3 linked regions of the Homo sapiens genome follow. The protein of the gene in region 1 interacts with the protein of each later gene in a pairwise test. Each region holds a gene or a part of one and is shown in the gene's direction. Other genes may lie near its edges. The genes, in order: HSH2D, CNMD and RBP7.

The links.
Region 2: the proteins of HSH2D (region 1) and CNMD interact in a two-hybrid assay, tested with the Homo sapiens proteins (one large-scale study listed by BioGRID and IntAct).
Region 3: the proteins of HSH2D (region 1) and RBP7 interact in a two-hybrid assay, tested with the Homo sapiens proteins (one large-scale study listed by BioGRID and IntAct).

The regions. Positions count from the first base shown.
Region 1 is NC_000019.10:16,142,109-16,145,857, forward strand, and holds the start of HSH2D (hematopoietic SH2 domain-containing protein), read left to right. Parts: upstream 1-1,576; 5' UTR 1,577-1,666; intron 1,667-3,749. UniProt on the Homo sapiens protein: May be a modulator of the apoptotic response through its ability to affect mitochondrial stability. Adapter protein involved in tyrosine kinase and CD28 signaling. Seems to affect CD28-mediated activation of the RE/AP element of the interleukin-2 promoter.
Region 2 is NC_000013.11:52,722,748-52,726,396, reverse strand, and holds part of CNMD (leukocyte cell-derived chemotaxin 1 isoform 1 precursor), read left to right. Parts: intron 1-2,286; coding exon 2,287-2,400; intron 2,401-3,649. UniProt on the Homo sapiens protein: Bifunctional growth regulator that stimulates the growth of cultured chondrocytes in the presence of basic fibroblast growth factor (FGF) but inhibits the growth of cultured vascular endothelial cells.
Region 3 is NC_000001.11:10,010,681-10,014,329, forward strand, and holds part of RBP7 (retinoid-binding protein 7), read left to right. Parts: intron 1-3,649. UniProt on the Homo sapiens protein: Intracellular transport of retinol.

The DNA.
Region 1 (3,749 bases):
AAAATATTTTAAAATATTTTATAATGGAGGAAGTCCTGGTGTGGACCTATGCGTGCCATGAGACCCCAGCCTGTCCAGGCTCAATTCAGTTTCAAGGCCTTTGTGCCTGCTCTTCCCTCCCCCAGCCTGGGCAATATAGCAAGACCCCATCTCTACAAAAAAATATACTCTTTCTGCACTACGCACTCCCCAAATCAAGATGATTCCTTCTCACCCTCAAATGCCCCTTCCTTCACGTCAGTTAGGTCACCTCTGTGGGTTTGTGCAACTGCTGTTCCCACTTCCTGTTTCCCCTTTGGATTTTTTTGTTTGTTTGGGGTTTTTTGTTTTTTTGTTTTGTTTTGTTTGGTTTTCGTTGGTTTTGTTTTGTTTGAGACGGAGTTACACTCTCGCTGCCCAGGCTGGAGTGCAGTGGTGAGATCTCAGCAAACCGCAACCTCCACCTCCCGGGTTCAAGCGATTCTCCTGCCTCAGCCTCCCAAATAGCTGGGATTACAGGCATGTGTCACCACGCCGGGCTAATTTTGCAGTTTTAGTAGAGACGGGATTTCTCCATGTTGGTCAGGCTGGTCGCGAACTCCTGACCTCAAATGATCTGCCCACCTTGGCCTCCCAAAGTGCTGGGATTACAGGCATGAGCCACCGCACCCAGCTGGTGTTTTTTTGTTTGTTTGTTTTGCGGGGGACAGAATTTCCCTCTGTCATCCAGGCTAAAGTGCAGTGGCGTGATCTCGGCTCACTGCAGCCTCTGCGTCCCTGGTCCAAGCGATTCTCTTGCATCAGCCTCCTGAGTAGCTGGGATTACAGGCACCCGCCACCACGCCTAATTTTTGTATTTTTAGTAGAGACAGGGTTTTACCATGTTGGCCAGCCTGGTCTCAAACTCCTGGCCTCAAATGATCCACCCGCCTCGGCCTCCCAAAGTGCTGGGATTACAGGCGTGAGCCACCGCGCCCAGTTTCTGTTCCCCCTTTGTTGCTTTTGTTTTTGTTTTGAGAAGGAGTCTCACTCCGTTGCCCAGGCTGGAGTGCAATGGTGCGATCTCTGCTCACTGCAACCTCCGCCTCCCGGGTTCAAGCAATTCTTGTGCCTCAGCCTCCTGAGTAGCTGGGATTACAGGCGTGCGCCGCCACACCCGGCTGATTTTCGTATTTTAATAGAGACGGGGTTTTGCCATGTTTGCCAGGCTGGTCTCAAACTCCTGACCTCAAGTGATCCGCCTGCCTCAGCCTGTCAAAGTGCTGGGATTGCAGGTGTGAGCCACCGCACCCGTTCCCCGTTCTCCCTTTGTAATGATGTCTCACTCCTCTTCACTGCTTGATAGATTATAGATGCCAGGAGTCAGGGGGCCTGCACCTGTCTCCGTGTCACCCCTGTGTCCTCCAAACAGCAGGCACACAGTAGGTGCTCAATAACAACTTGCTGGGGGCAAGACAGGAGCAAGCTGTCTCTGCACCTGTGGCACCAGATGCTTTGTTGGACTGCAGACAGGGTGACTTGAGCTGTCCTTGTTCCGCCCCCAGGGCTCACCTGCTTGAGGAAACAGGAACTGCCTCGGGGCAGCCAGCCCCGCCCCATTGACGTGCAGACCTTGAATCGAAACCCAGGCTCCTGCAGGCACTGGCACAGCTACAGCGAGGGCCTCGGCCATCCAAGGGTCTCCCAGGTATGTGACCCAAGAGCCTCAGCCCTCGAGGAGACAGAACGTGGGGGCTGGGCTAGGCCAGAAGGAGGGACAGGGCTAGTGGGGCCTGGGGTGGCAGGAGGGATTTTCTAGGGGCATGGGGGAGAGCTTCGTGGAGGAGGGGGTATTTGTGGTGACCACAAATGGAAAATGGAGCTGGAGTTAGGGAAAAGGGGGTCTTGGCAAGACAACAGCATGAGCAAAGGTATGGAGAGGCAAGAGAGAGAGAGCAAGGATGTCTTTAGGTCTAGAATGTGGGTAGCGGGGAAGTAGAGGAGGCTCCCAGGCCAGGGTCAGGAGCTTGAATTTGAGCATGCGGTCTTTCATCACTAGATAGCTGTTCACCAGCAAAGACCCTTGCACCCTCCTCTGTGCCAGGCCAGCACCAGGACACAGAAAAAAACAACAACACAGGAACCTAGCCCTAAGCCCTGATCCCTAGGAGGCCCTCAGGCTGGTGGAGACAGAGCAAGATAAAGACACTCTAGCTCCATGGAGTCATGGCTGGACCAGAGAGAGGAACAGGGGGGAACGTTGGGGACAGAGAGGGGTGCCAGGGTGTTGTCTGGGGGGAGATGCAGGAAAGCTGCCTGGAGGAGGGGACATTTTTACTGGGTTTTGAAGGATAAATAGGAGCTCTTCCAAGTAAAAAAAAAGAATAAGCCTGTAAACATTACCCCATGATAGGTCACAACTGGATTCATGAATATTGTATATATATCTCTATATATACACAGTGCTAGCTAAACTTTCCTAGGTAAATATCATTATTCCCAAATTAAAGACAGAAATACAGGGACAGAGAGCCATTAAGTGACTTATCTGAGGTCACACAGCGGCTAAGTGGGCGAGCTAGGGTTTGAACCCAGGCCATCTGGGTCGAATTCTAGGCTCTTTTTTTTTTTTTTTTTTTTTTTTGAGACGGAGTCTTGCTCTGTCGCCCAGGCTGGAGTGCAGTGGCTCGATCTCAGCTCACTGCAAGCTCTGCCTCCCGAGTTCACGCCATTCTCCTGCCTCAGCCTCCCAAGTAGCTGAGACTACAGGCGCCCGCCACCACACCCAGCTAATTTTTCGTATTTTTAGTAGAGACGGGGTTTCACCATGTTAGCCAGGATGGTCTCAATCTCCTGACCTCGTGATCTGCCTGCCTCAGCCTCCCAAAGTGCTGAGATTACAGGCATGAGCCACCGCACCTGTCCCAGGCTCTTTTTTTGTTGTTGGTGGTGATGGGTTTTTTTTTTGGGGTTTTTTTTTTTTTTTTTGTGAGACAGAGTTTCGCTCTGTTGCTCAGGCTGGAGTGCAGTGGTGCGATCTTGGCTCACTGCAAACTCTGCCTCCCGAGTTCAGATGATTCTCCTGCCTCAGCCTCCTGAGTAGCTGAGACTACAGGCACATGCCACTGTAAGTTTTGTATTTTTATTTCATATTTATTTATTTTGAGATGGAGTCTTGCTCTGTTGCCCAGGCTGGAGTGCAGTGGCTCGATCTCAGCTCACTGCAACCTCCGCCTCCCAGATTCACGCAATTCTCCTGCCTCAGCCTCCTGAGTAGCTGGGATTACAGGGGTGAGCCACCTTGCCCAGATAATGATTGTCTTTTTATTAGAGATGGGGTTTCACCATGTTGGCCAGGCTGGTCTCAAACTCCCAGCCTCAGGCAATCCGCCTGCCTCAGGCTCTGACAGTGCTGGGATTACAGGTGTGAGCTACTGCACCCAGCCTCCAATTCCAGGCTCTTAATCATTTTGTCACCCTGCTTTATTAAACATTTCTTAATACAGTTATTTAATTTTGGTTGCCCCAGAATTCCCTCAGGCCATACCCCAGAGGGTATGCTTGACATCTGGTTGGAGAAAGTCAATATTGACTGCCATTGGTCAACAGACCCCGCCTCCTCATAGAGACAGCCCAGTAAAAAGATCTTTTGAGATATTGAAACATTAGATGGGGCCAATGGGTGGAGGGAGTGAGCTCCAGTTTAAGGACAGAATTTATGGTGAGTGGCCGGGCGCAGTGGCTCACGCCTGTAATCCCAGCACTTTGGGAGGCCAAGGTGGGTGGATCAC
Region 2 (3,649 bases), on another chromosome or scaffold:
GAAGGTTTGTGAACCACTGATAAAAAGAAACTTGGGTCCAAAGGTTATTGCCATCACTTTAAAAGCTTTGTTACCTTGAACACCTTTCTCTTTCATATGGTAGTCTTCAACCCTGGCATCAACCCTTTAAATTATAAACACCTGGGGAGCTTTTAAGGCTCCCAATACCTGGGCCCCAAAGCAAACCAATCAAATGGGAATCTCTGGGAAGGGACCCAGGCGTCTGTGTTCTTAAACCCTCTACAGTGAATTCAGGTGCAGTTAAGAGCCAAGCCTCAGCAGTGAGCCTCGGAGCTCCTCTTCTGTAAAGTGGGGATAATGCCCCTGTCTCTCTGAGTGAGCAGTAGTGCTGGGAGAAATAGGTGAAATGAGTTACATATGTATACATGATTAATTAAGCCACAAGACAAATAATAAAGAGCTTGAGGAAGAATGAGCCTTTTCTTCTGTGTTTTGCAGTCCTTTACTCACCAGCTTCTGTAGGGCTCCTGGCTCTGTGACTACATAAGGTAGAGCTATCCATTAATCCCCTCCAGCATGACTTACATTTAATTTTCTTCTTCATTGTAAAGGGCTGAATCTTGAGCCAGGATCCCTAGATTTTAAGTGTTTTCTACCCCCATTCTTTATCACTGGCCCTGGTACCATTTCTATATCATTCCAACACTTGCCTCAACTCAACAGAGGACTGATAAGGTTCAGATTTGTGCTAGTATCTCCATTATTATACCATAAAAATTGTAGGCCTTTATTTTAGATTCACTAGTCCTGAAACTAACAGCAGCAGGAGGAGAGTAAACATTCTTGGGACAGAGCATCCTGTTACCCCTCATGTCCTCTGTGGGTAGAATCGGGGCTGTGCTTTCAGCCAAGACTGGAGCTTTGTGGCTGATGTTTCCCTTGAGGCAGTCCCTAGGCAGACCAAGAGAAGATATTGTTTATATCTCTCAGGAGACAAAAAAAAAACATCTAAGTCCTTGGGTAAGGTATAGAAGGAAAGTTCAGAACCAGGTGCTGTAGAAAGTTTTACTGTTTACTCTGGGCTCAGTAACCTAGGAAAATTCTGAATTCACAGAATTAATTAATTTGACCAACATCTTTTGAATAGCTTTGTGGGGTCACCAAAAAAGAAAACAGAAAAGATTCAAATACTGATCTCAAGAAGCTTATAACTAAGTAGGCTGTGTATAGCTGAGTAAGCATCCCAGTTGAGGAATGAAGACAGGAGGACTTATGGGAAAGCAGAGGAAAGACAGCTGCTTAGGCTGAGATGTTCAGAGAAGGCTGCATGGAGAAGGTGGCATTTCATCTGAGCTTGTGAATATAGATGGAATAACTAACATATTCTGTCCCAGCTCAAATATCATCCCCTCATTGAGTCACCTCCCCTGACTATGCTGTCTGTCTAAATTACCACCTCATCATTCCTGTCTTATTTTTCTTCTTAACAGTTATTACCTGACTTTATCTCTATTCTTGTTTGTTTGTTTGTTTTTATTTTTTTGAGACAGCCTCGTTCTGTCACCCAAGCTGGAGTGCAGTGGCGATCTTGGCTGTCTGCAACCTCCACCTCCCGGGTTCAAGCGATTCTCCGGCCTCAGCCTCCCAAGTAGCTGGGATTACAGGAGCCCGCTACCACACCCGGCTAATTTTTGTATTTTTAGTAGAGACAAGGTTTCACCATGGTGGCCAGGCTGGTCTCAAACTCCCGACCTCAGGTGATCTGCCCGCGTCGGCCTCCCAAAGTTCTGGTGGCATAAGCCACCATGTCCGGCTGTTTTTGTTTGTTTTTTGTTTTTGTTTTGAGACGGAGTCTTGCTCTGTTGCCCAGGCTGTGGAGTGCAGTGGCGCAATCTTGGCTCACTGCAAGCTCCGCCTCCCCGGTTCACCCTATTCTCCTGCCTCAGCCTCCCAAGTAGCTGGGACTACAGGCGCCCGCCACCACGCCTGGCTAATTTTTTTTTTTTTTTTTTTTTTTTGTATTTTTAGTAGAGATCGGGTTTCACCGTGTTAGCCAGGATGGTCTTGATCTCCTGACCTCGTGATCTGCCTGCCTTGGCCTCCCAAAGTGCTGGGATTACAGGCGTGAGCCACCGCGCCAGGCCGCCCGGCTGTTTTTTATTATTGGTAAACAATGCTAAAAGGTAAGTTCCATGAGGGCAGTTCCATCTCTTTTGTTCATCCCTATCCCTAGCACCCGGAACAGCATCTGGAACACAGTAGACACTCAATAAATCGAATAAATGAACAAATGGATAGATAGATGGATACACTTTTGTTTCATAGGGCATCACAGGAATTCGTTTTGCTGGAGGAGAGAAGTGCTACATTAAAGCGCAAGTGAAGGCTCGTATTCCTGAGGTGGGCGCCGTGACCAAACAGAGCATCTCCTCCAAACTGGTGGGTACCAACATGCCTGAGACAGTGAGACTGCTTGGCAAACATTGTTTGAAGGCACAACCCTTTTGGTTTTTATTTTTTGTTTTTATTTTTATTTTTATTGAGACAGAGTCTCACTCTGGAGTGCAGTGGCGCTTTTGGCTCACTGCATCCGATTCTCCTGTCTCAGCTTCCTGAGCAGCTGGGACTACAGGGACACCACCACATCCAACTAACTTGTTGTATTTTTAATAGATACAGGGTTTCACCATGTTGGCCAGGCTCTTCTTGAACTCCTGGCCTCAAGTGACCTGCCTGCCTCGGCCTCCTAAAGTGCCAGGATTATAGGAGTGAGCCACCGCGCCCAGCCTAAAGGCACAACACTTTTGGTTTCTAGTACCTGGATAGGTTCATGACTAGATGGTAAATTCGATTTCTTCTCTGCCAAAGGAATTCAAACTGTTTTTGTCCTACTGGGGTCAAGGGATTCTTCTCACATGATATAGTATATTTAAACGTTTTGGGAAGCCACATTTTAAAGTGCATAAAGGGGCTGGGTGCTCATATGGCCTTATTTGCCTGAGGTTAGGGAACTATCTGATCTGTGGTTAAGACTCCACAATAGAGGCAGGCATGGTGGCTCATGCTGGTAATCCCAGCACTTTGGGAGGCCGAGGTGGGCAGTTCATTTAAGCCCAGGAATTCCAGACAAGCCTGGACAACACGGCAAAACCCTGTCTCTACTAAAAATACAAAAAATTAGCTGGCCATGGTAGTGCGTACCTATAGTCCCAGCTACTCAGGAGGCAGAGGTGGGAGGATCACTTGAGCCCAGGAGATTGAGGCTGCAGGGAGCTGAGATTGCACCAGTGCACTCCAGGCTGGGCAACAGAATGAGACTCTATCTCAAAAAATAAAAAAACCCGAAAGAGACTCCACAATAAAGACAAAGGACTCCACAAGACAGGGTCTTCATTAAAGGGACCCACAATAGCGGATCACACAGCCTCTGCTGGAAAGCAGCCACAGGGCACTCATCCCCCACCCCAACACCAGCCAGCATCACTGAGGGTGGTTCTAATTGTTTTGCCCTACATTAAGCTGAGATAGCTCCTCCTACAACTTCTTCCCATTGGTTCAGGTTCAGCCCATTGAAGCTACACAACATATATCTAATTCCTTTTCTATGTGTCAAACCTGTGAGTTTTTAAAACATGTTTCTTTCATTTATTATTAATAACTTGCCTTTGAGCTTGATTTTTTTAAAATT
Region 3 (3,649 bases), on another chromosome or scaffold:
TTCAACGATTTTCCTGCCTCAGCCTTCCCAAGTAGCTGGAATTACAGGCATGCACCACCACGCCTGGCTAATTTTGTATTTTCAGTAGAGACGGGGTTTCTCCATGTTGGTCAGGCTGGGCTTGAACTCCCGACCTCAGGTGATCCGCCCACCTCGGCCTCCCAAAGTGCTGGGATTATAGGTGTAAGCCAGCATGCCCGGCCATGCCCAGCTAATTTTTGCATTTTTAGTAGAGACATGGTTTTGCCATGTTGGCCAGGCTGGTCTCGAATTCCTGACCTCAGGTGATCTGCCCGCCTTGGCCTCCCAAAGTGCTGGGATTACAAGCGTGAGCCACCCGACAGACAGAAAACAAAGAAATTTCGCAGGATTACAACATTTTCTATACAAAGCTGTTTTATGAGTTACAGGAATTTGATTAGTTACCACTCAGTTTTTTCCTTTTTCTTTCCAGTTTAAAGAATATATTTAACATTCTTTATTTTATTTTTCTTCCCCCTCATTCTTGCTGTCATCTTAAGAGTATATTTAACATTCCATCTTAGACAACGTGATAGTCATCTGTCTTTGTATTAGAGAAGGAAGAGGTTCACCTGCTTTGGGAAAAAAAAAGAGAGAAGAAACAGGGAAGTGAGTCTGTAATTAAGATCAACAGTAGAGGGAAGTCTTCTCTGGTGCCCTTTAGTTTTTTACAAAACAGTGTAGGTAAAGAAAAAGGCTAATCTATAACCAGAGAAATTAAGGTTATAGCTGTCTAGGTTACAGCGGCCTTTCACATGACTCAGGTCCCACAATCACATTCCTTTAAGACTCAAAATAATTTAAAGTTTCATCAGCTTTGATTGTGAATTACGTATTTTCACACTGTAGGGTGAAGATTCAAATACAGGTCTGACAAGAATGTGTGCTCTCAGCTCTGTGCTTTTTTGCCTCACTGTATGTGTGAAATCTAGGTGAGACCCATGAGAACAAAACTAGAGCACTGTCCTTAAAGTTGGGTCTGGGTAGTCTTTGAATACCAAGGCCTTGAAGATATTTTGATTCTAGATGGACAAATCTCACACTCTTCTGACGATAAAAAAGTAAGAGGTCAGGCATGGGATTACGGGTTCACGCCTGTAATCCCAGCACTTTGGGAAGCTGAGGCAGGCGGATCACCTGAGGTCAGGAGTTCGAGACCAGCCTGGCCAACATGATGAAACCCCATCTCTACTATAAATACAAAAATTAGCTGGGCGGAGCCGGGCGCAGTGGCTCATGCCTGTAATCCCAGCACTTTGGGAGGCCAAGGTGGGTGGATCACTTGAGGTCGGGAGTTTGAGACCAGCCTGACCAACATGGAGAAACTCCCGTCTCTACTAAAAAATATTTAAAAAAAAAATCAGCTGAGAGTGGTGGCGCATGCCTCTAATGCCAGCTACTCAGGAGGCTGAGGCAGGAGAATCACTTGAACCTGGGAGGAGGAGGTTACGGTGAGCCGAGATTGCACCATTGCACTCCAGCCTGGGCAACAAGAGTGAAACTCCATCTCAAAAAAAAAAAAAAAAAAAAAATTAGCCGGGCTGTGGCAGGCACCTGTAATCCCAGCTACTCAGGAGGCTGAGGCATGAGAATCGCTTGAACCCGGGAGGCAGAGGTTGCAGTGAGCCAAGATCATGCCACTGCACTCCAGCCTGGGGGATACAGCAAGACTCTGTCTCCAAAAAAAAAAACAAAGTAAGAAACTTGCCTTCGCAAATACGTAATATGGAATTTCAAAGAATATATACATATGTTTGAGGATTTAGATTAGTTGGTTTGTAAGAGGTAATGTTCAAATTATGCACAACAGCTGGGTGTGGTGGTACTTGCCTGTAGTTCCAGTTACTGGATAGGCCAAAGCGGGAAGATTGCTTGAGCCCAGGAGTTTGAGTCAAGCCTGGGGAACGTAGGACTAGCCTGTCTTTAAAAAAAAAAAAAAAGAAAAGGAAGGCTGGGCATGGTGGCTCACACCTGTAATCCCAGCACTTTTGAGAGGCCGAGGCAGGTGGATCACCTGAGGTCAGGAGTTCGAGACCAGCCTGGCCAGCATGGCGAAACCCCGTCTCTATTAAAAATACAAAAATTAGCCTGGTGTGGTGGCAGGCACTTGTAATCCCAGCTACTCGGGAGGCTGAGGCAGGAGAATCACTTGAACCTGGGAGGAGGAGGTTGCAGTGAGCCAAGAGCCAAGATCGCGCCACGGCACTCCAGCCTGGATGACAAGAGTGAAACTGTCTCAAAAAAAAAAAAAAAAAAAAGAGAAATACCAAATGTGTACATCCTTCTCTAGCATACCCTGGAAATCTGCCCATGCAGGGCACAGAAGTACTTTTGTTCTAAGGATACTCATGGAATGCTTCTTACTTACCATGATTTTTTTTTTTTTTTTCAGACAGAGTCTCACTCTGTCGCCCATCCTGGAGTGCAGTAGCTTGATCTCAGCTCACTGTAACCTCCTCCTCCTGGGTTCAAGTGATTCTCCTGCCTCAGCCTCCCAAGTAGCTGGGATTACAGGCGCCCGCTACCATGCCCAGCTAATTTTTATATTTTTAGTACAGACAGGGTTTCACCATGCTGGTCAGGCTGGTCTCAAATTCCTGACCTCAGGTGATCCACCCCCCTCAGCCTCCCAAAGTGCTGGGATTACAGGCATGAGCCACCGCGCCCAGCCACCATGATATATTAAAAAATATTTGGTTGCTGGGTGTGGTGGTTCACTTCCGTAATCCCAGCACTTTGGGAGGACACGGCAAGAGGATCACTGGAGTCCAGGAGTTTAATACCAGCCTGGGCAGCATAGTGTGACTCTGTCTCTACAAAAAATTGGCTGGGGGCAGTGGCTCATACCTGTAATCCCAGAATTTTGGAAGGTCGGGGCAGGTGGATCATCTGACGTTAGGAGTTGGAAACTAGCCTGGCTAACATGGTGAAATGCTGTCTCTACTAAAAAATACAAAAATTAGCCGGGTGTGGTGGCGGGCACCTGTAGTCCCAGCTACTCAGGAGGCTGAGGCAGGATAATCACTTGAACCCAGGAGGTGGAGGTTGCAGTGAGCCGAGATCGCGCCATTGCACTCCAGCCCGGGCAACAAGAGCAAGACTCCGTCGCAAAAAATTAAAAAAAATTAGCTGGGCATGGTGATGGGTGCCTGTAGTCCCAGCTACTTGGGTGGCTGAGGTGGGAGGATTACTTAGGCCCAGGAAGTTGAGGCTAAGGTGAGCCATGACTGCACCACTGCATTCCAGCCTGGGCGAAGGAGTAAGACCCTGTCTCCAAATAAAAAAGGAGTAAGGCCTTGTCTCCAAATAAAAAAAAAGATCTTTTGTGTGTTAACGACATGACTGTCTACTGAGGGTCCTTAGATAGCTTCAGGATGGGGGATGGTCACCAGAAAATCGAAGGCATGATTAGAGGGTTGGAACTTTCAGCCTCATCCCTGAGGGAAGAGGGGCTGGAGATTGAACTAATCACAAATAGCCATTGACTTAATCAGTCATGCCTATGTGCTGAAACATCCACTAAAAACTAAACCACGGGGTTTAGAGAGCTTCCATGTTGAACGGTGAACATTCATGTGTGTGGTGAATACATTGAGGTGCTGGGAGGGCTGTGTGCTCCCCCTTCCTA